Linked DNA regions of Homo sapiens. The protein of the gene in region 2 purifies or fractionates together with the protein of the main gene of each other region. This does not show direct contact. Each region holds a gene or a part of one and is shown on either strand. Other genes may lie near its edges. The genes, in order: FOXP1, NUP62CL, MAP7, TRIM24 and BPTF.

Region 1 (6,173 bases), on a different chromosome or scaffold from region 2:
GGATATTCCAGGAGCCTCTCCTACCTGAACCAGCAGCGTCTTCTCTCTTAAGCCGGGCTACAGGTACATGGGTGCTCACTGATTTACTCTTTGTTCCTTTTTTGTGCCTTACATATTTCACAATGAAAATGGAAACATATAAGCATACAGTTTTAAAATAAATAGCTTTGTAAATATCAGCCTGATTTCTTTTCTTAAAAAGGTAAGTTGAGTTGTTCTCAACTCACAGAACAAAATGCTTGAGACCAAGGCATCACACTCTATTCAGTAATTCGGACACTGGTTACAAATACTGAAAAACCCAGCAATCCAATATAAAATCTATTCATTTTCAAAAGTTCTTAGGATTACCTTATATTTAAAGAATTTTTAACCTCAGGAGTCTGCTGCAGGAAAGTCACTTCTAACAAAGAGATACTCTGTATTTAGTAAATGTGACTGTCCTGCTTCTTAAGCAAAACAAAAGCAAACACAGAAATGAGATTTCTCTCTAAGTATCTTTTTGAGTTGACATAAATACACACACAAGGAAAAATATGCAAGAAGCATACTTTGTGTGTGATTTCAGGACAAAAAGGTATCAGAAAAGGTGAACTTTCGCCAGGTGGAGAGTCCCTCCGTCCCCACCCCCACCCCATCCTCATCCCAGAATACTTAAACCTTTTGCTGCAGTTGCCATAAGGATAGCCAGACAAAAGGGAGAAGCACCCCCAGTCAGCAGCAAGGAGGATAACTTGCTTCTACAAGTATAAGAATTTGTTGTAAGCTTACCAAAGTTACGGCTGCGCGTTTACTGTCAACATGCATCACACTGCAACAAAAGCCATTATTTAGAAAATAAGATGAACACATTTAAGCAGCTGAACCCTTCTTAAACCCAGAGAAGGCATGCAAAACAACAGCAGGTCTGCAACAACATGCCTGATGGAGCCCATAAAAGAAAACTGGGGACTGAACGATTTTCTATTCTAATAGACCATTTTCTCCAAAATTATTTAAAGTTGCTTATGGACATAGATGTTATCTGAAGATGCCCCACCCCTCCTTCCCAAGGCTCAATCAACTAGCTTCTTTCCAAATAATTAAATGGGGCAAACTTTCTATTAGAAAATATCTACCATACATCACTAAAAAAAGGTCTGTCATTGATTCCCTAATGAAATATCAGTTAATTACTTAACCTTTCTTAATGAAATGATTAACATTTCAACAAACAAGGCGGAATGACTTCGCATCAAGCTGTAGATTACCAGTGACAGTGGTAACTATGTGTCCTCTACCATTGCGCCGTCTATTCTTTCAATCAGCTCCATGTTTCATCTTTTATAGAAATTCTTTATGCAGTAGTAGAGACACTCTACTTTTAAAATTTGGCCCATAAGAGTTTTTTTTAAGTGCCTCAGGGTCAGAACAGAAATTTTAAAAGTTTTTATTAGACGAATATCCCCAATGCTACCTAAACCTACAGAAAAGCAAACTGTGAAGTTCTAAACGTAAAAACAATTGCCAACTTTTTGGCAGCTATTAAAATAAAGCCACACCTAAAGCCAAAATGGAAATTAAAAATTAGGTGTGGGCATTATGGACACATTATTACCGGGTAACTTCAAAAGCCACATTATTAATACAGATGAAAAAATGTCTCAACAACTTTTATTTAAATAACTCTTTTGATCTTAGTGGTTAGATCTTTAGTTGAAGCCCTGAATATTTAAATAAGCCTCCTTAACATTTTATCTTCCTTTATTTCATAATCTTGTAGGATGCCTTCTTCTTAGGATTCTGGTTTCTTTATTTGTGTGGCATCGTTGGCTAGGCTATTTCCATCAATATTCGTGCATGCCCCATCACATACGATAGAGAATTTCCCAAGATGCTTGGGAAAATCAAAATACTTCTGCCAGCAGGGTTAATCCAAAGAGCAAACAGTTACAATTTTAAAATTAAGATGGAATACTCAGAAAAAAAAATTCTAGAGAGTCATCTGACACTAATTGGTAGCTACAGCATGACAACACCCATTGGGAAACATGGATGCAGGCAAGACAAAATTCAAAAGGAAATTATCTGATATTGACATTTGGTGAAAACCACCGATGTTCCAGGTTGTTCCTATCACGTTATTGAACTGTGAGGCTCTTGTTCTGCCTCTGTTTCTCTAAGTCTCCAAGGTTTCTTTTTGTGCCCTCCTGAAAAAGGAGCTCCGTTTTCTTCTCTTAGGTTTCACAATGGCCAACCAATTCAATTAAACTCTTAAGAAGGGTTGCAGGCTTTCCTCCAACTCTGATAATTGACAGGTCCAGTTTTCCCACTTTGGTGGGCATCAGGACCATGTGGGATGCGATTTAAAAACACAGATGCTGGCCCCACCCCAGATACGGCACATCCAGGAGTCGTGCAACTGTGTCTGTGTTGGGAACAACAGCTCTGCTGTGATTCCAATACTCGTGCTTGGTTAAAAACCACCGTTTTTCATTCGTAATAAAAATCCAAATACATTAAAAACAACACAGGATGGGCCTCAAGGTAAAATCAAAGAAATCATCAGTAAAATCCAAGTGAAGATAGAGATTTCAGTTCCACACATCTGAAAGAATAAATCACTTGATTCACAGGTCTCTAGCATGCATCAGAATTATCAAGGGAAGTTTGTTATAAATGTACGTTACCATGTCAATCAGCAAAAATTCTGACTCAAGGATCTGTATTTTAATAACCTACACACACACACATACACACACACACACACAGATACAGAGGTAGGTGAGCGAGGACCTCACTTTGAACCAGGCTGAATTAGGACCAACTGCAACCTCCCTTCACTTCAGACATGAGCATTCACTTCCATCTCTGTGCTCACCCCCAGGAGGGGAAGCCACCAGTGCCACTGGTCATCAGGAGGTAGGCACCAGGGCAAAAGAAACTCAAGCAAAACTCACATCACACCCTCCCCCAACAAAAGCTGCGGTCACTGTCCTGAGAGCACCAAGAATATCTTTTAAAAATGTGAGTAATAACAAAGCCCTGTATCATTGGATCCCTAAGCTCAAAGAACATATGTTAAAATATTACCCCTAATTCAAAAGCAGGGAACCTGGAGCAGAGAAAGTCACATTATGACTCAATTGCACAGCTGGGAGGGAGAAAGGACACCTCGGAAATTCAGTTTGATGCTAGAAATATTCTTCAGTGTCCTAGTAAACAAAGTGAATCACAAAATTAGCTAAAATCAGAGCATCTGGTAAAATGTGGATGTCCACCTGACTTACAAGTAATAAATAAATATATGTCCAAACATAAAACTCAGAGAAAATGTTTGTCCTAAGCAAATCTATTCTATTGAACATAAACAAGGCCCAATAATCCCACATTCAGATCCATTTTTCCCTCAGTAAATTGTCCTATAACATGCTAGCCTCTGATATCTTCAAACTGTTGAAATCAAACAGAATGACATGGGCTTTCTATTCAATGATCCCATTTCAGCTATTTATCTGAATTAGCAGCAGTTTGAGGAAATACACTCATCACAACATGATTCTGAGTATAGAGAAGTAAATAGTAAACAGAACACTGGAACACAACTGTGTATGTATTCATATTCCTTTTTAAAAAAAAAACTATTTTATTAAAAATACAATTTGGAAGGAAAGTGCAATTAGCTTTGCACAGGCACTGCTGAGATGTTCCCGAACACAGCAGACATATGTAAATATTTCGTGATATCAGTTCCATTTGAGTAGACCTGTCAAGATATTTACAGGGCTTGACAGTACTTCTGTCTTTAATTAAATTTTTGCCCAGATACTTTAATATAATTTAAATAGATTATTAGTTGTCAGAATCGAATATAAATTTTGTTTACGATTTAGTTACTTTAAGTACTCAGACTGAAGGAACTAATTTAACCCTACAACTGAGCAGCTTTAAGCATCAAGGCCAAACCACTAGAAAGCTCCCACTGCCCTTTGCACTCTACCAATAACCTTAAATTATTACAACTGAATTGTAAATTTCATGGCACTAAACTGAGCCCCCCTCCCCTCCTTTTGAAATAAAACAGCTTGGGGAGGGTCATGAGGAAACACCCATTTACACCTGTTCAGGTACTAGGTAGGTTCTCCCTTTCAGGCACTCGTTCTCACAGCGGCTGGCTAGATAGGAAACATTTTTTTCTCACTCTAAGTCCCATAAAATAACTACCGAACAAACACCTGTTGTGTACAAGGCAGGGCATGTATTAAAGACTGGCATCAGGGCATTGCAAAAAGAAAAACAAGCCTTGCAGAGACATCCACAAGCCAATCTGGTCAATAGATTTCACGACTGGGTAAAACAACAGTGCGTGCGAAGAACACAGCTTCTGGCACAACCTTCTTGTGAATGGCAGCTGACTTCTAAACAAGGATTGAAAAATGCCTTAGCACAAACTGACTGTAATTAATAAGAATAATTTATTAAAGAAACAAAGAACACTGTCTAATTGTCTTTCCTGACTGCCATGCACTTTCCCCCATTGTACTTCCTCTTTGCAGAATACCAGCCTCGTAGCCCTAACTGTAAGAACATTATCTATGGGATGCAAAACCAAAACACTTCTAGAAATCAAATATTCCTTACAACATTTATTTTTAGGTTAGCGACACAAGCCAAATCTGCTTAATTTCCATTAAGCACATGGTCACATGCTCATTGAAATAAACTACAAACGTCCCAGGAAAAAAAAAAAAGGAAAAAAACTATCATGCAGAAGATACCCCAAATTTCGCCAGGTTTGCCCGTTTCAGGAACTTGCCTCATCTCAAGGCCTGCTGGCATTCCAGCTTTTGGAGCCTTTATCCTTAATTCATCCAAGTACCGGAGAAGAGAAATATGTTGAAAAATCAGTTTAAGATGGTTCCTTGGATAGCATATGTATAGCAAAGTGGCCTGCAGAGTAGAGTAACAAATGACAAGAAAGATCATTAAAAAAATGCATGGGCCCAAGTGCAAACCTACTTGGCTTGCTGGCTTGTCTCACAAACTCAATGTTTGATCACCTGGTGGGACTAACTACCATCAACTTAAAAAAAAAAAATCCCCTGCAAATAGTAAAAGTATACATTGGCTCAGGTATAAAGTTCACCTGTCTATTCAGCAGATGCCTTTCTTGAGGTTATTTTCTTTAGAAAACAAACCCCTACCTGCTTGAGAGGTTTATATACTCTAGATTCAAAAAAACACATTTAAAAAGAAAAAAAGAAGGCCAATATTGCTGGTATAGCAAAAATGGCATTTACTATGACTGAAATCTATAAAAGAAGTGTGACATCTGACAGGATAAGGAAGAAAGGAAAAGCCCTTAGCAAAAAGAAAAAAAAAATTAAAAACAAAAATACCACCTGTGTAAATCTAGCCATGCTCTGGAAACCCTTTCTCGGTCGTGGAGAAGAAACAGCTCATGCTGAATGCCTTGAAGTTGCAATTAAATTGTAGTAATTTAAGATTATCGGGAGAGCAAAGGGCAGTAGGAGCTCTTCAGAGGGTTTCCCTCCCCACTTAATGCTCTTCAGTCACGGGTTAAATGAGTTTCTTTAATGTAAGTACCTTAAAGTAACAGAATCATAAACAAAATTTATACTATGTTCTGACAGCCTGCAATCTACTTCGGTTTTATTAACGTATACCTAAAATTATTTTTAAAGGACAAAATTCTTGCTATACCCTGTAAATATTCTTGGCATTCCCACTGAAATGTGATAGGTACTGTAACACCTAACCTTGTCTAAATATACATACTTTTTGAGATGTGGAATCTTACAAGATAGTGTTTCAAAACTGAGTTTGAGTCATAAGTAAAACATGAAAATCAAATAAATATGCACAATAAGATTGGCTGCAAAGAGGAAGCTGGGTTCAAAAGAAGTTGTCACATCTGCTATATTCCTTCTCTTTCTTAATTTTGGCACTGGACCCCCTGCAATATAAATATATTTGAAAAATATCACAATTCTTCTGTTAATTTAAACAACTGCTGAAAACAGACATACCCTTCAACAGAGCCTAAGATGCAAATTTACAAGGCCAGGGGTATAGTCTTTAAAAAGGCAAAGAAAAACTCAGTAACAGAAAACCATGCCTAGGCTCAATATTAACTCAGTTAACTTTTGCTATTATAAGTATAAATGGTTTAA
Region 2 (6,173 bases):
GTCTACTTTTTTCTTTTTTTAAATTTCTCATTGGTTTCCTTACCTCTTTCTCTGCCTTCCTGCTGTACCTTATTCTTAATTGTGACTTGCTCATGGTCCCTTACTTCTACTTCATCTCCTTCTTCTGTCAGTCCTATCAAGTCTTTTTGCCTATAGTTGGATTCCTTCTATACTTTTGGAAATATTTCCCAGTATCTGCCTAGAGTCAGATTTTTCCGTATTGCTAAATTTTTGAAAATGAAATTCTGACTCATATTAATCCTGTTTCACTAGAGCTTTTTGTGCCAGACCCTCAGGTAGGCTGCTAGTAGTACATTGGATGGCTTCCCATCCTTCAGTTGGCCATCCTGCCCAGTCAACTTTGAACCAGGAACAAAAAGGACAGAGTTATCTGGAACAAAGAATGGGTATTTGAGCTTGTTCCCTCAGCAGGAATGTTCCCTCAGGCCAGCCTCCCTCAGAGTAGTCAGTGCTTGCAGCAGGCACCATGGTTTATGCATTTATCCAGTGTGGCCATTAACCTGAAACTATTGCTAATTGGGAAAGCAAAGCTAACATAAAACAAACAATCATGTACGTTATATTTTCATAACATATTTCTTGTTACAGAAGCAGCATTTACTAGTTGTAAGAACATTTGAAAATGCAGAGAACCAAAAAGAAGAAAATAAAACCTTCCCAATGCCCTAGCAGCCACAATTTTCTGTGCCTTGTTCATTAAGTGCTCAGTGTGTAGTAAGAACCAAAAGTGCTGCAGAAATTTAGAAAACCAAAGGAAACTATGAGTAGGAGAGAAGTGGGTGATAAATATGGGGAACAAAGAATTTGAGTCAAGCCATGAAGTATACTTAGGATTTTATCTATAGAGAGCAGGACATTCTAATAGGGGTGTAACAGAAAAAGACATATAGGAGAGAGTCTGGGCTGTAGATAAAGCTTTGAGAGGCTTTTGACTAGGGTTTGCAAAAATGCATGCCTAGTATTGGCTGTGGTATAAAGAAATAGGCACTCTTTCCTATTGATAGGGACATAAATTGGCAAAATTGTTTAGATAGGGCAATTTGGCAAGTTATGTTAAAATTTAGAGCATGCTGACACTTTGATCTAGAAATTTTATTTCTAGGAATTAATTACACAGATACAGTCATGTAAATATGCAAAGATATAGATGTACAGAGATCTTTTGTAAATTGCAATTATTCTTTTCTTGAAAGTTTCATAAAACTTACCAGCAGTGGCATCTGGGACTGGAGTTTCCTTTATGAGAAGAATTTTGAGGATTGATTTGATTTCTTTCATGGTTATTGGGCTGGTTAGAAGTTTTATTTTTCTATGAATTTATCCAGGATTTTCAGCTGGAAAGTTAATCCAGGTACCTGGCCTGCCATTTATTATTTCATATTACAACAGTGTTGAATTCAAATCTGCATCTTTGAGTTCAAATTTGTATTTTTAAAAATGCCTCCATAATTTTAAATCTGAATGATCAAGGCTTAAATGAAACAAATTTCTCATTTCTTACTAACATTATACACTTTATTTTCCAGTTACAACTTCAACGACTACCACCGCCACTTTCACCACCAACACTACTACCACAATCACCAGTGGCTTTACTGTGAACCAAAACCAACTGTTATCAAGAGGGTTTGAAAACCTTGTACCTTATACTTCAACTGTTAGGTAAGCCTATTTATTTAAAAACTTGCATGTGTTTCATTTTATTTATCATGTACAAGACATTTGCTTGGATAACTTTAGAATAATATTTGAAAGTTAGCTAAATGACTGAGTTGAGGGAACAGTCAAGAGAAAGATTTCTGTAGCTTAGGAAGTTGAATAAACAGCAGCACACCTTTACCTTCTGAATATCATTATAATAGAATCATTACTATTACTAATAATAGCTACCACTTATTGTGCAATTACTGTGTATGTAATCTGTGTATGTTTAGCAAGATGACAATGCATTACAAGCATCATGTCATTTATCCTCACAGTAACCCTATGAGGTAGGCAGTATTTTCATTTTCATTTTATAGGTGAGAAAACAAGAGCATATAGAGATTTTATAATCTGCTCATAGTCGCATACTTGTTAATGGTTGAGCCAGGATTAAAATTCAGACAGTCAAGCTCTGGAGCCTGTATATGATGTTTCTCTCTAGTATTTGTTCATTTTTTAAATTAAGCTTTTTATTTTGGGATAATTGTAGAGTCACATGTATATGTAAGAAATAATACACAACATTCTGTATGGTCTTTATATCATTTCCTCCAATGATAACATCTCAACAGTACTACAGTATAATATCACAACCAAGATATTGATATTGCTACAGTCAAAATACAGAACAGTTTTATCACTACAAGGATTCCTCCTGTTACCCTTGTATAGCCACACCCACTCCCCTCCTTTCCTTGACCCTGAGCAACAATTAATGTTCTCTATTTCTATAATCTTGACATTTCAAGAGTGTTGTACAGATAGAGTCATATATATGTGACCTTTGGGGATTGGATTTTTTTATTCAGCATAATTCCTTGTGATCCACCCAAGTTGTCGTGTGCATCAACAGTTTGTTCTTTTTTATTTCTGAGTAGTATTCCATGGTATTGTGGATGCACCATGGTTTGTTTAACCATTCACCTGTTGATGGACATATAGGTTGTTTCCAGTTTTTTGGATATTATGAAAAAAGCTGGTGTGAACATTGATGTACATGTTTATTATGAATATAAGTATTTCTGTGGGATAAATGCCTAGGAGTGCAGTTGTCGGGTGGTATGGTGGTTACATGTTTTTTGTTTGTTTTGTTTTTTAAGAAACTGTCAAATTCTTTTCCAGAGTACTGTGCCATTTTACATGCCCACTAGCAATGTATGGGTGATCCAGATTGTCTGCATTCTTGCCAGGATTTGGTGTTGTCACTACTTTTTATTTGAGCCCTTCTGACAGATGTGAAGTGATATCTCATTATGGTTTTAATTTGCATTTCCCTGATGACTAATGATGTTGAACGTCTTTTCACATGTTTATTTGCCATCAGTAGATCCTCTTTGGTGAAATGTCTGTTCATATCTTTTGTCCATTTTCTACTTGGATTATTTGATTTTTTTACTGTTTGGTTTTCAGAGTTTGTTATGTACTCTAGATGCCAGTCTTTTGTCAGATATGTGGCTCATAAGTATATTCTTTAACTGTGTAACTTGGCTTTTCATCCTCTTAACAGGGTCCTTTTGCTGTATCAAAACCTTTAATTAATGAGTTACAGTTTATCACATTTTCTTTTAATGAATTGTGCTTTTAGTGTCAATTATAAGAAATCTTTTCTTAGCCCTAGATCCCAAAGATTTTCTTTTTCTTCTGTGTTTTTCTAAAAGTTTTATAGTTTCACATTTTACATTTGAGCTTGTGATCCAACTGGAGTCAATTTTTATATAAGGTGTGAGGTTTAGGTCAAGATTAATTTTTTTTTGTCTGTGGATGTCGAGTTTTTCCAACATCATTTATTGAAAGACTATCTTCCCCCCTGAATTGCTTTTGCACCTTTGTCAAAAATCAATTTGTGTCAAATGCTTTTTCAGCCTCAATTGATAGTCTTAAGATTTTGTTTCTTTATCTTGGTGAAGTGGTAGATTACACTGATTGATTTTCAGATGTTCAACCAGCCCTGCATATGTGGAATAAATCCCACTTGATCATGGTGTATAATTTTTTGGTACATTTTTAAAAATTTGGTTTCCTGGTATTTTGTTTGAGGACTTTTGTATCTAAGTTCATGAGAGATATTAGTCTGTAGTTTTCGTCTTTTTTTATGTCTCTAGTTTTGATATCAGGGTAACATTGGCTCTATAAAATGATCTGGAAAGTATTCTGTTTTCTGTTTTCTAAAAGAAATAGTGTAAAATTAATGTTAATTCATAAAATGTTGGCAGAATTCTCTAGCGAAAACTTCTCGGCCTGTATCTTTCTTTTAAAGGGGTATTTATTTATTAATTAATTTATTATTATTATTTTTTTTTTTGAGACAGAGTCTCACTGTGACGCCCAGGCTAGAGTGCAGTGTCAAGATCTTAGCTCACTGCATCCTCCACCTCCCAGGTTCAAGTGATTCTCCTGCCTCAGCCGAGGCCTCCTGAGTAGCTGGGATTACAAGCTCCCGCCACCACGTCCAGCTAATCTTTGTTTTTTGTTTTTTTGTTTTGTTTGTTTGTTTGTTTGTTTGTTTGAGACGGAGTCTCGCTCTGTCGCCCAGGCTGGAGTGCAGTGGCACGATCTCGGCTCACTGCAAGCTCCGCCTCCCAGGTTCACGCCATTCTCCTGCCTCAGCCTCCTGAGTAGCTGGGACTGCAGGCACCCGCCACCACGCCCAGTTAATTTTTTTGTATTTTTAGTAGAGACGGGGTTTCACCGTGTTAGCCAGGCTGGTCTCGAACTCCTGACTTCGTGATCCTCCCGTCTGGGCCTCCCAAAGTGCTGGGATTACAGGCGTGAGCCACTGCGCCCAGCTAAAGGGGCTTTTAGGCTAAAGGGGCTTTTAAATTACAAATCAATTTCTTTAGTGGTTCTAGAACTATTCAGGTTATCTAGTTCATCTTTGATGAATGTATTGTTTTTAAAGAGTTGGCCCATTTTTTATATTGTTAAAAATAAAGTAGTTCATAGTATTCCATTATTGTCCTTTTAATGGCTGTAGGGATATTCCTGTTTCATTTCTGATGTTAGTGGTTTGTGTCTTTCTTTTATCAATTTTATCGATCGCTTCCCAAAGAGCCAGCTTTTGTTTAATTAATCATTTTCTATTCTTTTCATGTTTTCAATTTCACTTGATATCTACTCTATTATTTCCTTCCTTCTGATTGCACTGAGTTCATTTTGCTCTTTTTCTAGTTCGTTGAGGTATGAACTCAGACTATTGATTTGAGATTTTTCCTATTTTTTAACGTACACATTTAGTGCTATAAATACCCAACTCAACACTTCCTTAACTGTGACCTACATATTATGTTATATTGTGATTTCATTCAGCTCTATATACTTCTTAAATTTCCTTTGTGAATCCTTCTTTGACTAATTTATTATTTAGAAGTGTGTTGTTTAATTTCCAAGTGTTTGGAGATTTTCTTGTTGTTTTTTCTGTATTGATCGCTACTTTGATCCCATTGTGGTATTAGAATATGCTTTGTACGATTTTAGTTCTTTTAAATTTATTTAGGTTTGTTTTGTGGGTGAGGATACAGTCTGTCTTGATGAATGTTCCATGGACATTTGAAAATTGTGTTTTCTGCTGCAGGGTGGAATGTTCTATATATGTTAATTAAATTCTGTTGCTTCACTGTAATTTCAGATACTGTGTTATTGGAGTCTTTCTGTCTAGTAGTTCTTTCAGTTGTGGAGAGTGGCTTTTTGAAATCTCCGCCTTTAATTGTGGATTTCTCTATTTCTCCCTTTAGCTCTATCAGTTTTTATTTCATGTATTTTGAGGCTTTCTTGTTTGGTCACCTATACATTTAGGATTGCTAGCCTTCTGGATGCCTTGATTCCTTTATCACTCTGTAATGTCTCTCTTTGGTTCTAGTAATTTTCTTTGTTCTGTAGTCCACTTTATCTGATATTAATATAGCCATTTCTTTTTAAAAAAATGAACCTTGCATGGTACATTCTTTCCATTCTTTTACTTTCAAACTATGTATTAATATATCCTTGTATTTGAAGTGAATTTCTTATAGACGGTATATTGTTGGATCATTTTTTATTCACTCTTCCACTCTCTGTATTTTAATTGGTATGTTTAGCACATTTATATTTAAGGTAACTATTCACATGTTAGAGCTTAAATCTGCCATTTTATTTGTTTGTTGCCTCTGATTTTTGTTCTTCTCTTTCTTTTTTTTACCCTGCTGTCAGTTGTTTGAGTATTTTGGGGGGGTTTCATCTTGTTCTGTTTATAGTGTTTTTAAATACATTATTTTGTATAGTTTTATTACTGGTTGCTCTAGGTATTACAGATACATGCATTACTTACAACAGTGTAGTCATACCACTACAGTGTTTGGGTGAAGTGCAGAAACCTTAATTCCATTTAGTTCCTTTTACCCTTCTTAGCTTTTAAGTATGGTTGTCTCAGCCATTTCTTCTGTGTACATTGAATATCACATCACATGGGGTTA
Region 3 (6,173 bases), on a different chromosome or scaffold from region 2:
GAGAAAAGGATAGGAAATCATGCTGCCAAAGGTAAGCCCTCCCAGAAAAAGCTTCAAATCACAAAAGATGGCACCACAAAACCTCAGGAGCAGGCACGAATGCAACTCAGAAGTGCCTGTAAGCTGGGTGTGGTGGCTCATGCCTATAATTCCAGCACTTTCAGAGGCTGAGGCAGGAGGATTGCTTGTGTCCAGGAGTTTGAAACCCGCCTGGGCAACATAGAGAAATCTCATCTCTACAAAAAATAAACAAAATTAGCCAGGCTGATGGCATGCACCCGTAGTCTCAGGTACTCGGTAGGCTGAGGTAGGAGAATAGCTTGAGACCAAGAGGTCAAGGCTGTAGTAAGTCAGGATTGTGCCACTGCATCCCAGCTTGGGCGACAGAGCGAGACCCTGTCTCAAAAACAAAACCAGAAGTGCCTGTAGACATTTCAGTGTGTAGAGCCAGAGATGACAATTTGAGGTGATAATCAAAGCACAAGTTGAATAATCCTGCTGAGAAAAAAATGCACATTAAAAACCGCAGAGGTTACCAGCTGGGCCTTGGGCACAGCAGCATGCGGTGAGGAGAAACAAGAGAGGTGAAGGAAAGAAAGATTAGCCTGAAGGGTATTAGCATCTGGTCACACGGAAGGGAAAAGGTCGTACTTGGGTCAACTATTTATAGACAGAAGAAACAAGGTCCAGTCTCCAGAGCCAGGGACCTGGTGATCAGAGGTCAGGGGTCACTAGAAAGATCTCTGGGAAAAGTATGTAATTTTCTACAAAATACTTTAATATCTACCCCAATTTAACCTTTCCTGGTTTTAAGGGGCAGGAGGGAGAGGAAGGCAGTGTAGGAGCTAGGCAAAGTCAAAACAAAAGCTGAATGGTATTTTGTCTCACTGCACATATTCATACAGAAATGTGCGTACATGTGGACACTGAGTATATGTGTGCATACTTAGCTATTCAATTGTACTCATAACTGTATTCACATCTATATTTCCTTCAAAAAAGTCCTGGGGCAAAATAAGAGACAACCTGAGTAAACTCACTAGACTTAGGGCAATTGCTATTACGATTTTCCATGTGGTTTCCATAAGCAAGGTGCACACACTTGACACCACACACCACAATAGTCAAATGGAAGGGAATACAATAGGAAATGGTTCTGAATCATTAGTTCTCAGCACTGATTGCACACCAGACCATCTGGGGAATTTTAAAAACACTGCCACCTGACTCCCATCCTGCAAGATTCTCAGATAATTACCTTGGATGCCACCTGGGCATCCTGATATTTAAATGGTCCCCAGGTGATTTTTAATCACTGCCAAGATTGAGAGCCAATGATGTGAATCAATGATACTCCAGCACATGGGCGCAATAATCATTTCAACAACATAACCTTGGGGTCAAGGAGTGACCCATATTTAAATGAACCCACCACGCCTGTGGTGAAGTTGTCACTGAACTAATTTGGAGCATCTACCATGAATAGAAACCAGTCCAGCTGGAATGCAAGAAGTAAGCAACCAGGTCCTGTCTGGTGCGCCTGCCACCCCAAAGGCTTGGGTCAGGAGCTTCTGAGAACCAGAAGCCCAGATTCGAATCTTGAGAAGCAGCCAAAAGTTTTGCTACAGGAACACATCTTACAGCCAATTATTATGCATGTTATTGCCACCAAGTAGGCTTCATGATGAGGGGTGGAGGTGCTAAGGAAGGGCTCCTTTCTAGAACTTCACCTTGACATTTAAACTGATCCTAGAGAACTTTTCTACATTCAACAGTGTTGGGGAAATGAGTTTTATACTCAGAGGTTATGCCATAGTGAAGGATAGTTCTCTTTACTAGAAAGCCAACTCCAAAAAGGAAGCTTACATATCATTTAATTTTAAAAGTCACAGAATTAGAAATTTTAAGATACCCCAAATCTCAATACTCTAAACTTAAAGATATATCATTTACTAACAGTGCCTATGAAGTGCAGCTCACATATGCCAAGTGCACTGCTCCCAGCCTCCTCCCTGCATTGTTTTATACCCCGTGCTCCTCTGTGCCATCTGGTCAGGTGTGTCAATCCTCCTTGGCACTTTCTCATGATTCTTTTTTTCACAACTATTTCTATAGGAGCATCAAGGATGAAGAACAGTTGAATGCAGTTTTTCTCAGTGTCAAATACTATATATTACTCTTCAAATCAAAATTCAAAGTGGAGCCGGGAGTGGTGGCTCCCACCTGTAATTCCAGCACTTTAGGAGGCTGAGTTGGGCAGATCGCTTGAGCTCAGGAGTTCAAGACAAGCCTGGCCAACACGGCAAAACCCCCTCTCTACTAAAAATCCAAAAATTAGCTGGGCATGGTGGTGGGCACCTGTAGTCCCGGCTACTCGGGAGGCTGAGGCACAAGAATCATTTGAACCTGGGAGGCAGAGGTTACCGTGAGCCAAGTTCGTGCCACTGCACTCCAGCCTGGGCAACACAGCGAGACTCTGTCTCAAAAAATATATTTAAAAAAAATTTCAAAGTGGTACCTAATAAAAAAATCTTACAGATCTTTTTCAACAGGCTATTTCTCAAATTAAAAAGATACTAAAGAGAATAATAATTACTGAAGAGAAAATCCAAATGCCATTTAAATGTGTCAACAACCGTAACTCAGAGTTTTACAAGAGCTAAGATAGTAAAGAGGTAGACAACATCACCGCTAGAGAACGAGACAAACCCTAAAACTGAATTTTATAAAAAAGTATAAGCCTAAATACCATTCACATTTAGCTTACAGAACCTTAGACCATGAGCAACTGATGAAACGTCCAATGACAGACTATCAAGGCTTTACAAAGCACTGTATCTGAGAACTGGTAAGTATTCAGTTTGACAATATAAGATGTTCCAATAAGGAATTAATCAGGATAATAAACAAAGTATATGAACAATATGTCTAGCTTTCTAACAACAAAACAAGTTATTTCCAAGTTCTAGAAAGCCATATCTCAAGGGATTAGAACAGAGACCATTAAGGAGGAAGAGAGAACTTGAATTGGCAGGGAATGTGCTATATAATGGCACTTCCGTCTATAATCAACTTCAGAATGCATACTCCACAGGAAATAAGAGATACTATGGCTCTTCAAGCAAGCAATGGTGTGTTAAAATTAAAAAAAAAAAGAAATACTGTGGGGAAAAAAGAATGAAGGAGAATAAAGATATTAGAGTCAAATATAAATTCCGTATTATACCTAGGCTCTGGGATCAACACCACCTCCAGGCTTTCCTAATTCATGTGAGCATGGGTTAGCATTAAAAAGGCACTATTTTACTTTGAGGTGATTACATTGCTTTACTCAAAGAACTTGGTGGAATGGCTAAAGTTTTAAAAACAAACAAAACTAACGATACTAAGTATTAGTGAGGATGCAGGGCAACCAGAACTCACATACACTGTTTGTAAGAATGTAAAACCGTAGAGTTGCTCTGGAAAAGCTTGGCCATTTCTTATAAAGTTAAACATACAGTTACATGAATCAGCAATCCCACTCCTAGGTATTTACCCAGAATAGATGAAAACTATGCTCACACAAAAACCTGTAGGTAAGTGTTTACAGCAGCATTATTCATAATTGCCAAAACCCGGGAACAACTCAAATGTTCTTTGATAAACCATCTGTGATACTTCCATACAATGGCAAACTACTTCATCAAGAAAAAGGATGTACCACATCCTAACATGCACAACAGTGTGCCTGAATCTCAAAAACATGATGCCAGGTGAAAAATTCAGACTCAAAAGGTTACACAATGTGGGGCTGGGTGCAGCGGCTCACGCCTGTAATCCCAGCACTTTGGGATACTGAGGCGGGTGGATCACCTTTGGTCAGGAGTTCATGATCAGCCTGATGGGGTTTAGTAGAAACCCCATCTCTACTAAAAATACAAAATTAGCCGGGCATGGTGGCACATGCCTGTAATCACAGCTATCCGGGAGGCTGAGGCAGGAGAATCGCTTGAACCCAGGAGGCGGAGGAGGTTCCTGTGAGCTGAGATTGTGCCATTGCACTCCAGCCTGGGCAACAAGAGTAAAACTCCGTCTCACAAAAAAAAAGAAAAAAAGGTTACACAATGTATGATTCCACTTTTATGACATTCTGGAAAAGGCAAAACTAGGAAGATGGTAAACAGATCAGTGGTTGCCAGGGGTTAGGTGTAGGAAGAGAGTCTCACTACAAAGGTGCAGCATTAGGGAATTTAGGTTGGAGGCAGAGGACTCTTTGGGATAATGTTAACGGTGGTGCTTACATTACCTATACAGTCAACAAAACTAAAAAAAGAAAATAAAAGAAAATCCGTAATTTTTTTTGCACACAAATTATTTTTTTCGAGAAGGTGTCATGCTCTGTTGCCCAGGCTGGAATGTGGTGCTACCATCTCGGCTCACTACACCCTCCGTCTCCCAGGTTCAAACAATTCTCCTGCCTCAGCCTCCTGTGTAGTTCGGATTACAGATGTATGCCACGACACCTGGCTAATTTTTGTATTTTCAGTAGAGATGGGGCTTTGCCATGTTGCCCAGGCTGGTCTCGAACTCCTGAGCTCAAGCGATCTGCCCGCCTTGGTCTCCCAAAGTGCTGGGATTACAGGCATGAGCCACCGCACCTGGACTGTACGCAAATTTTAGAATAGATTTTTTAAAATCCCTCTGCCTATTCAAGGATTTGTAATTTTTTCCTCTCACCAGCAAGCTTTATGGGAGGGTCTATTAAATTGGCTACCTTTCTTCCCAAACTGCTTATCTCACAATCACTTCTAATCTGATGTAGCCCCAACTCTTGCACCAACAACTGAAATTCCTCTTCTGGGGTTGGTCAGTGACTATTTGTAACCAAACCAACAGCTTTTTATAAAATGTCTTCATCAGTCTTTGAATCCCTTACCTCTCCATCCCTCTCAGCAGGTGTGACATTGCTCAGCTGTGCTTTTCCATCTGTCTGCTTTGCTGGCTCTTCCTCCTCCCATGCTTTACAGGTCGTCTCACCCCTTTGTGGTTTTTCTGAGCTCTCCTCACTCCCAAACCTTCAGCTATTATTCCTTTATGGAGTGAATCCCAGAGTCCTGACCTCTATTTTTCTCTTTTAGTCCTATACTTCCAGTTGCCTTTTGAACATTTCCACTTACAGATCTCTCTTGTACCACACATTTTCATGTCTAAAGCAGAGAGGTTTTTTTCCTGTTTCTCCCACCAAAACCTGATTCTGCTGGACACAGTGGTGCATGCCTGTAGTCCCAGCTACTCGAACAGCTAAGCCGGGAGGATCACTTGAGCCCAGGAGTTCAAGTCCAGCCCAGGCAACATAGCAAGACCCGCCCCCCATCTCTTTGGGGTAAAGAACAAAACAGGTCCTCCTCATGAATATTTTCCAATAAGTCAATGAGCCAAACTCAAACTTGGAAAAGTCTCATATGTCACCTTTTTACCTGCAATCCTTTGACACATGCCCCTGCAGAACCTTAAATTAATCGTCTCTTCCTATTGCCATGCTAATGACTGCCTGGATTTCTGCAGGAATCTCAAAGTTGGTGTGTATGTCGCTGAACTCTTCTTCAGTCCATCCTCAAGTCCACGTTGCTACTTTGAAATGAGGACCAGCTGAGTAGACCTAGCCCTTCATTGATCTCCAGAGATTTGGCTAATCTGGCTAGGCAGATATTCCTCATGCATTCTCATCCCTCCAGGTGCACCCTTCCCAAAGCAGTAAAAGAAAAAAAAAAAAAAATCAATGGAAGAGAATGACTTTCCCAGAGGGAGGAACTTTGCTTTCATTAGCTAAAGGCACAGCTGAGCTCTTGTTAGAACTTGCAATCAATATTTCAAGATTCATGGGCACAGAACTACCTGATTATTCCTGCTTTAATCAATATCCTTTATTCTCAAGAATCCTCAACACTTCCCCCACTACCCTACCCCAGAAAAATGTACTAGCCTCTCAGTTTGGCCTTCAGCCCTTCCACAATTTGACTTCGATGAACAATCATTCCTAACTGACCTAGGACTTTCTTTGAGCTTTACACATGTGTCAATATGACCAAAACTTTGCTCTTTTTCACACCTGCATCTTTTTCTCCCTTTCCTCCATCTAATTTTATATCCCACTTACCCATTTTTAAAAGTTTATTTTTTTATTTTTTAAA
Region 4 (6,173 bases), on a different chromosome or scaffold from region 2:
CAGTACATTTTCATTTAAAAGGTGAGGAGGGCTTAACTCTGGTTGATCTGTATATTCTATCCTCTCCCCCAAAGCAATGGCAACTGGCATTCAGTCATTTGCAATGGAAAGATTCCTGACTGACTTTTTTCTGGTTCAGTTGTCTTGGGGTTAAAGGCATTAGTACATAGGCAAAGAATCCACCTTCCCAAGTATCTCGCAGGGAATGTTAAAACAGCCTTTATTCCATACCACATGTGAAAACGTGGGAAAATAATTTTATTAAATGTTTAACTTGCAACTAACAAGGAAAGATTTTTTTAGGACTCAAATTAGGACTTAATTTGAAAATTAAGGAAGCAAATAGGTTGGCCCCATGAAAGATCTGTTAAATATCCAATAGTAAATTTAAAACATAGTAATTCTCAGAAATTACAAGAATCAAAACCTTTCAAACTTTACAAGTGGAATTAACATAGCTAAATTTTTAAAATGACTTCCAAAGGTCCCCACTCTGTGTCTTTCCCCCCTTCCCCAAATAACTTCCAGACAACTAGAAGTCTTCATGGCATCTTTGGTCCTCCTACTTTGGGAGTGGCTGGTATGAGGCAGAATAATCCAAGATACTTACCACCCGCTTTCCTTCCTGTCAGATTTTTTTTTAAATCTTTTAAGGCTGGTGAAATACACGTGTTAGAATTTTAAAAAACTGTTTTCCTATTACAGCTATTTATGGACTAGTAGCTTGCCCCTATATGGATCAATGTTACAGCTAGGGGAACAACAGTAGTAGTAATGGAGACTCAAAGTAGATAGAACTCTGCTGAAGTAACATTCAGTAATTTTTCTATTAAAAAATCCTTGTGGTAAAATATTGACAGTAAAAATCCATCAAAGTTAGTTTTTATTAAAACCAAAGCACCAATCTGCCCCCAAAAATTAAAGACGAAGACTACTGCCTCAGATGTCCCTCTCAATAAGTAAAACCTTCATGGAGAAAAATCTGTGATCTGACTGACTAGCATTATTCTCACTCAGAAACATGACACCAGTATGTGAATTACAACAGTAAATTCACATTCAAGATGAATATGCAATAAACATTTATAAAAAGACATCAACTATTAATTTACATAGGGCTATAAAATACTTTTAAAAATATGTACATGGTTATTCAAAAGGAGGAGCTCAATTTCAGTAAGAAATTATATGGTTGAACGCATGGTCACCATTTTTTTTTTTTTTTGAGACAGAGTTTTGCTCTTGTTGCCCAGGCTGGAGTGCAATGGTGCAATCTCGACTCACTGCAACCTCCACCTCCTGGGTTCAAGCTATTCTCCTGCCTCAGCATCCCAAAGTAGCTGAGATTACAGGCACCCGCCACCACACCCAGCTAATTTTTTTGTATATTCTGTTGAGGTGGGGTTTCACCATGTTGGCCAGGCTGGTCTTGAGCTCCTGACTTCAGGTGATCCACCCACCTCGGCCTCCCAAAGTGCTGGGATTACAGGTGTGAGCCACCGCGCCCGGCCATTCCCCATAATTTTTCTTTTTGTGACAGAGTCTTGCTCTGACACCCAGGCTGGACTACAGTGGTGCGATCTCAGCTCACTGCAACCTCTGCCTCCTGGGTTCAAGCCGATTCTCCTGCCTCAGCCTCCCGAGTAGCTAGGATTACAGGCATGGGCCACCACACCCTGGTGATTTTGGTATTTTTAGTAGAGATGGGGTTTCACCATGTTGGTCAGGCTGGTCTCAAACTCCTGACCTCAGGTATCTACCCACCTCGGCCTCCCAAAGTGCTGGGATTACAGGCGTGAGCCACTGCGCCCGACCCATTCACCATAATTTTAATGGCCAATCAGATCACTCAATTTCTCTCATTCACAACAAATACATATAAAATGAATGTATCTTCAATTTAAACCTAAAACCTGTTGTTCATATGCAGCAATTTACTTTGGGGATTCACATTAATTTGGACCAGAGCTCAGCAAAAGGAGTTCCTCTTCTCACTCTCTCTCCTTGGAACTCAAACGTAAGGAAGTGTCTAAGCACAGTAACAGCATAGCATATTGAAATGCAGTTTCATAAATGCAACAATCAGCTGTATACTCCCCCTTTTTTTGACTATGGAGGTAACCTTTTTGAAAGCATTCCTAAGCAAGTTATACTACATCTACACTACTATGTGGTAGTAAAATATAGCAGTAGTAAAGCCAGTTCTTTAGCTTAGAAAAGAAACTAAAACTACATTTTCCTTTTTAGTACCTTCCACTTTCCTACCCTTCCATTCAGAAAAGACAAGCAGGGCATGTTAATTCAAAAGACAAAATGATTACAATGCCAGATACCGATCTAAAATGTATTCTGCGTTGAATATGGTCTACATCCATCCATTTATACTTTTGCCATGGCCATATATATCACTGGTCAAGTACTTGGGCTTCCTTACACAGGAAAAGTCAGTTGCTTGGCACCTAGAAAAGCTGTCAGTGAGGTGGAACTGAGTAAATCCTAGCTCCTACGTGGTCTGCTCATCCATAAGCCCTAGCCAGAAGTGTGATAAACATTCAGCAATGGGGCCCTACTGGGCTCCTGATCCCAAATCCAGAGGGAAATCTCCCAGAGTTTATGGTCAAAGATGTACACCGGAGTGTACAAGTTTAGGTCAAGGTTACCTGAATCGCACTGAACTTTTGGGGGAATGCTTGATAAGTGAGTGTGGGTTATAGTTAGGCTCATTTTATGGTTTATTTCTATTTGAACAGAATTTAAGGATGACTTAGCTGAGATCCACCTGGGCACACAGGTACTTATTAATAAAGTCAAAGGATATTAATCTAAAGACCATTACACAAAGGCTATTTACAGAGAGAAACCCAAGACCTTTACTTTTTGTTTTTGAGACTGAGTCTCTGTCACTCAGGCTGGAGTGCAATGGTGAGATCTTGGCTCACTGCAACTTCTGCCTCCTGCGTTCAAGTGATTCTCCTGTCTCAGCCTCCTGAGTAGTTGGGATTACAGTTGCACGCCACCATGTCCGGCTAATTTTTGTATTTTTTGTAGAGGCGGGGTTTCACAATGTTGGCCAGGCTGATCTCGAACTCTTGACTTTGTGATCCGCCCACCTTGGCCTCCCAAAGTGCTGGTGGGATTGCAGGTGTGAGCCACTGCGCCCAGCCCCGATCTTTACTTTTAATATAATTATATTATGTATGACCAAAAGATGGTTCTCAACTGCCTTTCATTCAGCCAAAGATGGTTAGGGTGAAACAAATACTGTTTTGAAAGATAAATATGGCACTGAATGTAATAGTGACAGTTTGGGGTTCATTAGTCACATTTAGGAAATTATAGTTTTAGTCTCACAAGTTCTAACTCCCTTTTGTGATGATTCTCAAAATAATTTATCTGTTTTGCTCTGTTTTAACTTGGGAGACAAGTATGGAAGAATAAACTGTCAGACGAACAGTATTCTAAGATACCAACAATAAAATTATCAGCAAAAGCTCCACAGCTGCTGTGCTAAAAATAAAATGCTGGAGCAAAAAAAGACAAAAGGTGTATGCACTGTTATCAAAATCTGTTCAAACACTCTTTGGAGAACAAATGTCAAATGCAACTTTAAAACAACAATGACAAACATTACCATGTAACACATATTTGAAAAGTGAGTAGGACTTTTTAACAATACATAATTGACATATTATGAACAAGACCTATATATATAAACAATGGGGATCTATTGCTAACAAGTTATTTTCTCCCTGTATTTTATCTTTAGCAGTACCTGAAAACCCAATGAATTAGCCACAGGATATTTTCCACTTTAAGAAGTAAAGCCATGTAGATAAAACCAAGTCTTCTATGTTAAATTTATGGCAGGTGATATAATGCAAATAATAGCCTTCTTTCAAGTGAGCTCTTTTTATTCTATCATCCTAAGGAGAAAAATTTACTCCAGTTAATGTTTTATAAATACAGATTAACTTCGGCAAACCATTTAGATATTGTGTCAAATGCTGGATTAATGTATGGCACAGCAATTTTCTTCTATCTATCTATCTATCTATATCAGCTGAACCGGGTAGGTCTGGCACATTAAGAATATGCTTGTCCTCAGAAGATAAGTCTTTTGTACCTCTATCAATCAATCAGAAGAATAAAATCAGAAGTCAGATCAAAGATTAAGTTTGATGTTCTGACTCTCAAAAGAAAAACATGAGATAGATGCTTCAGGAAAAAAAAAAAATCACTATTAATTCCCCCCAGCTGCCTGCTCCCAAAATCCTACAACACATTTTCATTCCAAATTATAGACAGATGAAAACCACAAAAACGAGTCCCTTTCAGAGGAACTTATATTTAATGCCCAGTAGGGTATATGATGAAGAACCCTCACATCAAATACAGTGCACGCTGCTGTATTTATATTTTGGGTAGTTCCACTAAAAGCTATACTGCAAACAATGAGGCTTGTTGTAAAAGGATCACCTGTACAATTAAACCTCACATAGACACACAGCAAACCCAAATGTATATACTTCCCTCAGTGGAAGAAGTTGAAAATCTAGATCTAGAAATGTATAAAAAATGGCCTTGAAAACCTGCTATACCAAAATACCTCTACAGACAAGATAAAAACAAAAACAAAAATCAAACATTTGTTTTCCGGATTTTTCTTTAATACAGTTGCCATCTTACATGATGTACTATTAAGTGCCTTCTTAATAGCATCTAACCTACCCTTCTGTTGCACCGTTTGGCCTCCTGGGATGGAACTCTTGTTACCACCCATGTTTGTGGAGTACTGTTCTTCAGTACAGTACACCTAATTCATATTGTCAGGCCATATAATTCACGGGTAGTGGTATTAATTTCTAAAGCTGAATTAAAGCACACATCCAAACCACATATATTTTTTACTTTTCAACTTAAAGAGTTCATACAAAGTCTATTTCCTTTCTACAGTAGCTATCACTCCAGACTGTGGTTTAAAAATCCAAGAAGTGGGAAGAATGTCTTTGTTTTCAATGCTTCTTTCTTCCATCCTTTTTCTATCCTCCTTTTTTCCTTCTTTCCATTTTCTTTCTTCTATTCATCTCCTTCTTTCCTTTCTTTCTTAGTGATAAGAGGTTAACAGAAATGGGCTATTAAGGAAATCAAAGTCTAGTAAACGTCCAAAACAGAGATGAGAATAGTCACAAACTCTTCTTTTTGTAGTGATGTTAAATTACTGACAAATGTTTTTTTGAAAACAAAAAAATCTAAAAACCAGCACAAGCTAGTGGTGCTGCATATTATTTAAGCAACTGGCGTTCTTCAATGCTTTTGAGGCGTTTCTTCCGGGGCTGTACAAAGTCATCATCTGAATCATCACTAAATTTATTATCTTCTGATTCATTCCTGAATTCTGGTTTGGGAAACCTTTTTTCTGGATAGAGGTTCTTTAGAAGTTCTTCAAAATAATTTTCAAGTTTTATACCAGCATTGGCTACTTCTGAATCAGGCTGTGGAGTAAAAATAAAAATGAGTAAAAAAAGGACACACTTTTGACTTCTGAGATTATATATATTAATGAGCTGTTTTGAAAAGTGTTCATGCATAGTCATTGAAATAATAGTTTAGGACTAGACAAAGTCTCTGTACAGAAGGCCAGCTAAAATAAAAGATTCAGAAGTGTGGAAAAAAGATAAAAGTAAAAGCCTGGATTATTCTAAAAGAAGGTGGTAATGGTAGGACTATATTGCCAAACACATATCAGTTAGGATTCCATAACCATAGGATCATGAACCAGGTATTTTTAGAACAAATTAAATGTAGTACTATTAGAATGAGTAACAGAGAACAAACCACCAGCAGCAAAAGGTTCTAAGTCTGACTGATGTGTAGATGAACTGACAGATGAGAAATTTTTAAATTAGAGCTATTTGGCCCACATCCTTAATATTTCAAGATCAACATAAAAATAAGAAATACAGGTGGGAATGATAAAGAATATGTCTAGGTCAGAGAAAAACATTTTGTCTTTCAGTTATCAGCTGTAATTTGCATTTCCATCACCATCTAATAAACCTTTGAATATAAATGTGGACAGAGTTATCTGAATTATCTCTTGCATTCCCTGATCTGAAAAGTTGGAAATTTATTCTAACTCAGACATCTTGGTCTCCTATGTTGACAAGGTGTTT
Region 5 (6,173 bases), on a different chromosome or scaffold from region 2:
CACAGTTTGCTTATCGCCTTTTTCTACCTTGATCACAGTTTTTGATTCTGTGGCCACTGTGGAGGTCATCGTGGTGACTTCTGTGATGACGGTTTTTCTTTTAGATTCTCCATTGACATTTTCATTTTTGTTGATGGGCAGACCATTTTCATCAATAAAGTCATTACTGAGATTAGATTCCTCTTCAGAAGTAATAGGTGATGAAGTAACTTTCTTAACTTCTGAGGTTTCTATTTCCATATCTTCTACCTGATTAACTGAATTGCTTTCTGGACAAGATGCTGAGGGTGTGGTCGTCTGTGTACTGTCAGACTCTTTGGTTGATGGCAGGGTCTCAAGGCTATCTCGGTAGTTACCTTCAGCATCTGAAGAACTCAGCAAATGCGATTTTGTTTCGGAGCTGTTTCTTTCATTAAAATCTTCCATGATGACATCACCATTAATGAATGGCCTTATAGCAGATTCTTTAACAGTCAATGATTTAATATCATTCTCAGGGATTATTTTATTTATATTATTAACCTTTGGTTCAACATTACCACTTACTACTCTACTCTCAGAAATTTCTTTCAAGCATTCACCTTTCAAATATATTTTGGGTTTATTATCTTTTCCATTTATTTGAAATGTACTTGTTCTCTGTCCTTTCTTTTCAGACTCTCGATTTTCATTATTCTTTTTGTCAGTGGTATTTTTTAGCTTTATTTGATCACTACATTTATTAACTGGTCTCTCCTCTAATTTCTTCTGCTGACTTGGTTTTTTACCATTTGCTTCAGTCCCCTTGACCGGCAGCCTGTCCTCACAGTTTCCAGTGGACTCACCAGAAACCAACTCACACTTTAACGGCTCCAAGACTTCAACATCTTGTTCTCGAGTTCTGAACTGTTCAGAAATGCTTTCATTGCTATTCTGAACAATCATATCTTCTTCACTGCTATCCTGAATAGACACGGTATCAGAACTATTTTCCAAAGTGCTATTAGATTCAGAGTCACATCCCAGTTTTCCTTCAAAGTCCATTGCTCTTGACAGAGGTGTGGCATCTCTGTCATTGGTACTTTTAGGCACTGATGAATGTAAAGCACTCTTGGAAGAAGAAACAATGGTGTCACTTTCCTCCTGTATGAGCGGTTTTTTGTTCTTACAGATCAAAGTACCAATATCATCTGCACTGGCTAGTTTAGAGTCATCGATGAAAAAATCATTTCCTTTTGTTTTACTCTTACTGGGTTCCTGGCCTCTACTGGCAAGGTCAGAGACTTTTTCTTCTATGTCATTTTCAATGGAATTTTGTTTCGGACATTTTGTTTCTGGGCTCCGAATGGAGACATCATCTAACACTCGATCTTTTGGATAAAGTTTGTTTGTGGTATGACTAGGATCACTCATTCTAAGAACTGAGGAATCACTTTCTGAACATCCCTGAATCAAGTCCTCAGGTTGATCATTATTTGCATTTGGGCTCTGTTCTTGTCTCATCGAGTCACTCTGACACCCTTCTTTTGCTTTCGTTATTACTGGTGATTCAGAGAGATTTTTTGAAGAATTTGTAGAAGTCTTTCCTATACCCTTAATTCCACCCTCCAACTTGATTTTTTCGAGTCGCTGTTTTTCTTCCAGTGTAAACTGTTTAATTCTCCTTTCAAGAAGTCCATCTAGTTTGGATGATTTTGTTTTCTTTTTGTAACTAGTCCTTAGATGAAAACCCTCACTAACATTGACCACATCTACTTGAGAACTCTCCTGACAATTTACATGTGACTCTGTTTTCATGTCATCGTCTACTTCCATTGGTTCTTCCTTGCAGGGTTTATCACTGTCAGAATCTAAGAGCTCCTTCACATCTGTGAAACAAAGACATTTATATAAATGTAATTTTTACTCTGAAAGGAGGAATTTATATATATATATTTTTTTTTTTGAGATGGAGTCTCACTCTGTTGCCCAGGCTGGAGTGCAGTGGCATGATCTCAGTTCACTGCAACCTCCGCCTCCTGGGTTCAAGCAATTCTCATGCTTCAGCCTCCCAAGTAGCTGGGATTATAGGCATGTGCCACCATGCCTGGCTTATTTTTGAATTTTCAGTAGAGACAGGGTTTCGCAATGTTGGCCAGGCTGGTCTTGAACTCCTGACTTCAGGTGATCCGCCCACCTCAGCCTCCCAAAGTGCTGAGATTACAGGCATGAGCCACCACGCCCAGCCAAAAATATTTTTTTAAAGTATCTCTAGCCACATGCATTATCTAGCTTATCTAGTTTTTTTTTAAAAATGACTTGTTACAAAAGACAATGTAGTTCCTCAAAAGGTTAAACAGAGTTACCATATGATCCAGTAATTCCATTCCTAGGTATATCGCCAAGAGAAGTGAAAACGCATGGCCACAAAAAACTTCTGCATGAATGTTCATAGCAGCATTATTCGTATAGCCAAAAGAGGAAACAGCCCAATGTCCATCAACTGATGAATGGATAACAAAATGTGGCATATCCATACAGAGTATTATTCAGAAACAAAAAGAAAGTACTGATAAATGCTACAACATGGATGAACCTTAAAACCATGCTAAGTGGATGAAGCCAGCCACAAAGGACCACATATTGTCTGATTCCATTTCTATGGACTGTCCAAAATAGGCAAATCCAGAGAGACAGAAAGTAGACCACTAAGCTGGTGGCACTTTCGGGAGGGGTTGGGAAGTAACTGCTAATGGGTATGAATGAGGCTTCTTTTCAAGGTTATGAAAATGTTCTAAGATTGATGTAATAATGGTTGAACTTTGTGAATATACTAAAAGCCACTGAATTTACACTTTAATTGGGTGAATTGTATGGGATATCAATTATGTTTTGATAAAGCTGTTATCAAGAAAACACAACGCAGTACCTTTCCTGTGGTGGGACCCTGATCCAGTGCATTCTTATCACCCCCAGGCTGCCCTCCACAGCTGACTCTCCTTACCTTGGTCCTTCTTCTCAGTAATCTTTGAGATATCCATTTCATTTTGGTCTGCTCCTTTTGCAGCATCTGAACCTTTTACCTCATCTTTTTCAGAATCAGGCTCTATTTTTATTTTTTTTGGACTTCGTGAACATTTTCTTTTATCTGACTCATCCATATTTTCATCCATATTATTTTTGGCTAAAAAGAACCATGTAACGATAATTTACGTTATTTCCAGAGTATTAGCACTTTAATATGTCAAGTTTAGTGAAAATAAACAAGTAATTTCCAGCAAGTTATGTTTCATTTTTTCATTTAAAAAAAAAAAAAAGACAAAGGTCTTATTGAGTATAAGGTACCATATAATCCTATATGCCTGGCTGACCTAAAACACAGAAGGAATGCCTGAACTTCAGACATTTCAGAAAACTTTGTGAACATTTTTGGTGAAATATGATTTAGGAAATTTGTTTTAAAACACTGCAGGATAAAAAAAAAAAGGGGGGGGGGGACCTGGTGCGGTGGCTCATGCCACTGCACTCCAGCCTGGGTGACAGAGTGAGGCTCTGTGTCCAAAAATTAAAAAAAAAACAAAAAACTGTGATTCAGTAACATAGTCAGCTACAAGATAAACATTAATACTATAGGCTGGTGCGGTGGCTCATGCCTGTAATCCCAGCACTTTGAGGGGCCGAGGTGGGTGCATCACCTGAGGTCAGGAGTTTGAGACCAGCCTGGCTAACATGGTGAAACCCGATCTCTACTAAAAATACAAAAATTATCTGGGTGTGGTGGTGCACACCTGTGATCTCAGCTACTCAGGAGGCTGAGGCAGGAGAATTGCTTGAACCCAGGAGGCGGAGGTCGCAGTGAGCTGAGGTCACGCCACTGCACTCCAGCCTGGGCGACAGAGTGAGACTCCGTGTCAACAAAAAAAAAAAAAAAAAAAAAAATTGTCAGTGACAACTGAAACAAGAGTGATAAAATTTGGATGGGTGTAGTGGCTTATGCCTGTAATCCCAGCACTTTGGGATGCCAAGGTGGGCGGATCACTTGAGGACAAGGAGTTCAAGACCAGCCTAGCCAACATGGTGAAACCCCGCCTCTATTAAAAATACAAAAATTAGCCAGGCATGGTGGCGTGCAACTGTGATCCCTACTCAGGAGGCTGAGGCAGGAGAATCGCTGGAACCTGGGAGTTGGAGGCTGCAGTGAACTGAGATCGTACCACTGCACTCCAGCCTGGGTGACAGAGTGAGACTCCATCTCAAAAAAAAAAAAAAAAAAAGTGGTCAGTGACAACTGAAACAAATGTGATAAAATTTGGGTGAGTGTGGTGGCTCATGCCTGTAATCCCAGCACTTTGGGAGGCTGAGGCAGGCAGATCACTTGAGGCCAGGAGTTCAACACCAGCCCAACAAGGTGAAACCCCATCTCTACTAAAAATACAAAAATTAGCCAGTCATGGTGGTACGAGCCTGTAGTCCCAGCTACTTGGGAGACTGAAGCAGGAGAATTGCTTCAACCTGGGAGGCAGAGTTTGCAGCGAGCTGAGATGGTGCCACTGCACTCCAGCCTGGCTGACAGAGCAAGACTCTGTCACACACATAAAAAAATAAAATGAAAGAAAACTCGTGTATGAAGGATTATCACAATCTATTTGATCATTCCAGAAAGCCCATATCAGTGGTTTCTAACATACTTTGTGTCACAGAACCCTATTAGAAATGGATAAATGCTATGATCCTCTACCAAGGAAAAAAGTATGTATATAAACTTTTGTAATCTATTTCAATGGTTCTTGGACTCCTTGAAGTTTATATAACAGAATAAAAGACTGAAAAAAAGGATCAAAGGCAATCTGTGGCCTTGTTTACTGCTTACAGTAAAAAGGTATCTCTAAGACAACCAGGGCAAGTGGAATATGGACTGAGAATCAGATTATTAATTTGTTAATTACGGTTAATTTGTTGAGTGTGATAATGACATGATGGTTATGGAAAAATGTCTACGTAGAGATACATATTGAACTTCTGGTGAAACATGATTTCTGGGATTTATTTTAAAACACTGCAGGATTAAAAAAAGTGGTCAGTGACAACTAAACAAAGAGTGATAAAATTTGGCTGGGAGCAGTGACTCACACCTGTAATCCCAGCACTTTGGGAGGCCGAGGCAGGCAGATCACTTGAAGTCAGGAGTTCGAGATCAGCCTGGCCAACATGGCAAAACCCCGTCTCTATTAAAAATACAAAAATTAGCTCGGCGTGGTGGCGGGTACTTGTAATCCCAGCTATTTGGGAGGCTGAGGCAAGAGAATTGATTGAACCCGGGAGGTGGAGGTTGCAGTGAGCTGAGACCATGCCACTGCACTCTAGCCTGGGTGACAGAGCAAAACTCCATCTCAAAAAAAAAAAAAAAGTGATAAACTTTGATAATTGTTGAAGCTGAATGAGTTCATTATTCTCTTTGTATTTGTGTAGTTTTAAATTTCCCATAATAATTACAAAAAAAAAAAAAAAATCAAGCCTCCCAAAACAGAACTACTGTCTAGATGAATATTCTTGGGACTTAAAGGTTTTTTTTTTTTTTTTGGAGACAGTGTCTTGCTCTGTCACCCAGGCTGGAGCACAGTGGGTTCATCTCAGCTCACTGCAGCCTTGAACTCCTGGGCTCAAACGATCCTCCCTCATCAGCCTCCTGAGTAACTGGGAATACAGGTGTGTACCAATATGTCTGGCTAATTTTTGCATTTTTTGTAGAGATGGGGATTTGCCATGTTGCCCAGGCTGTTTCTTGAACTCCTGGGCTCAACTGATCCTCCCCTGCCTTGGCATCCCATCACAGGTGTGAGCCATGGCACCTGGACTTAAAGGCATTTTCCTATTCTTTACCTTCTTCACTTGAACCTAAATATCCCAAGGACCTAGCAAGGTATATCCATTTTTTATTTAAATGAATGATTTCTTCCAGAAAGGTCTGGCTGAAGGGAAGAGAGTGCAAAGAAATCATAATTCTGTCGCGAGCAAGATACTGGTGTGAGAAAATAGATATAAAAAATATATCTATTTTTAATTTAAATGAATGATTTCTTCCAGAAAGGTCTGGCTGAAGAAAGAGAAGAGAGTGCAAAGAAACCGTAATCCTGTCAAGAGCAGGATAGTGGTGAGGTAAGAGAAGAATCACAGAAAAGGGCTTGGGACCTGCCAGCGTTCTATCACTCTGTGCA

What was found.
Region 1: the proteins of NUP62CL (region 2) and FOXP1 purify together in Homo sapiens (affinity purification with mass spectrometry; one large-scale study listed by BioGRID and IntAct). This does not show direct contact.
Region 3: the proteins of NUP62CL (region 2) and MAP7 purify together in Homo sapiens (affinity purification with mass spectrometry; one large-scale study listed by BioGRID and IntAct). This does not show direct contact.
Region 4: the proteins of NUP62CL (region 2) and TRIM24 purify together in Homo sapiens (affinity purification with mass spectrometry; one large-scale study listed by BioGRID and IntAct). This does not show direct contact.
Region 5: the proteins of NUP62CL (region 2) and BPTF purify together in Homo sapiens (affinity purification with mass spectrometry; one large-scale study listed by BioGRID and IntAct). This does not show direct contact.

The regions. Positions count from the first base shown.
Region 1 is NC_000003.12:71,572,724-71,578,896, forward strand, and holds part of FOXP1 (forkhead box protein P1), read right to left. Parts: intron 1-6,173. UniProt on the Homo sapiens protein: Transcriptional repressor. Can act with CTBP1 to synergistically repress transcription but CTPBP1 is not essential. Plays an important role in the specification and differentiation of lung epithelium.
Region 2 is NC_000023.11:107,163,159-107,169,331, reverse strand, and holds part of NUP62CL (nucleoporin-62 C-terminal-like protein), read left to right. Parts: intron 1-1,547; coding exon 1,548-1,683; intron 1,684-6,173.
Region 3 is NC_000006.12:136,539,576-136,545,748, forward strand, and holds part of MAP7 (ensconsin), read right to left. Parts: intron 1-6,173. UniProt on the Homo sapiens protein: Microtubule-stabilizing protein that may play an important role during reorganization of microtubules during polarization and differentiation of epithelial cells. Associates with microtubules in a dynamic manner.
Region 4 is NC_000007.14:138,584,061-138,590,233, reverse strand, and holds the end of TRIM24 (transcription intermediary factor 1-alpha), read right to left. Parts: intron 5,493-6,173; coding exon 5,283-5,492; 3' UTR 238-5,282; downstream 1-237. UniProt on the Homo sapiens protein: Transcriptional coactivator that interacts with numerous nuclear receptors and coactivators and modulates the transcription of target genes.
Region 5 is NC_000017.11:67,906,551-67,912,723, reverse strand, and holds part of BPTF (nucleosome-remodeling factor subunit BPTF), read right to left. Parts: intron 3,143-6,173; coding exon 2,963-3,142; intron 1,848-2,962; coding exon 1-1,847. UniProt on the Homo sapiens protein: Regulatory subunit of the ATP-dependent NURF-1 and NURF-5 ISWI chromatin remodeling complexes, which form ordered nucleosome arrays on chromatin and facilitate access to DNA during DNA-templated processes such as DNA replication, transcription, and repair.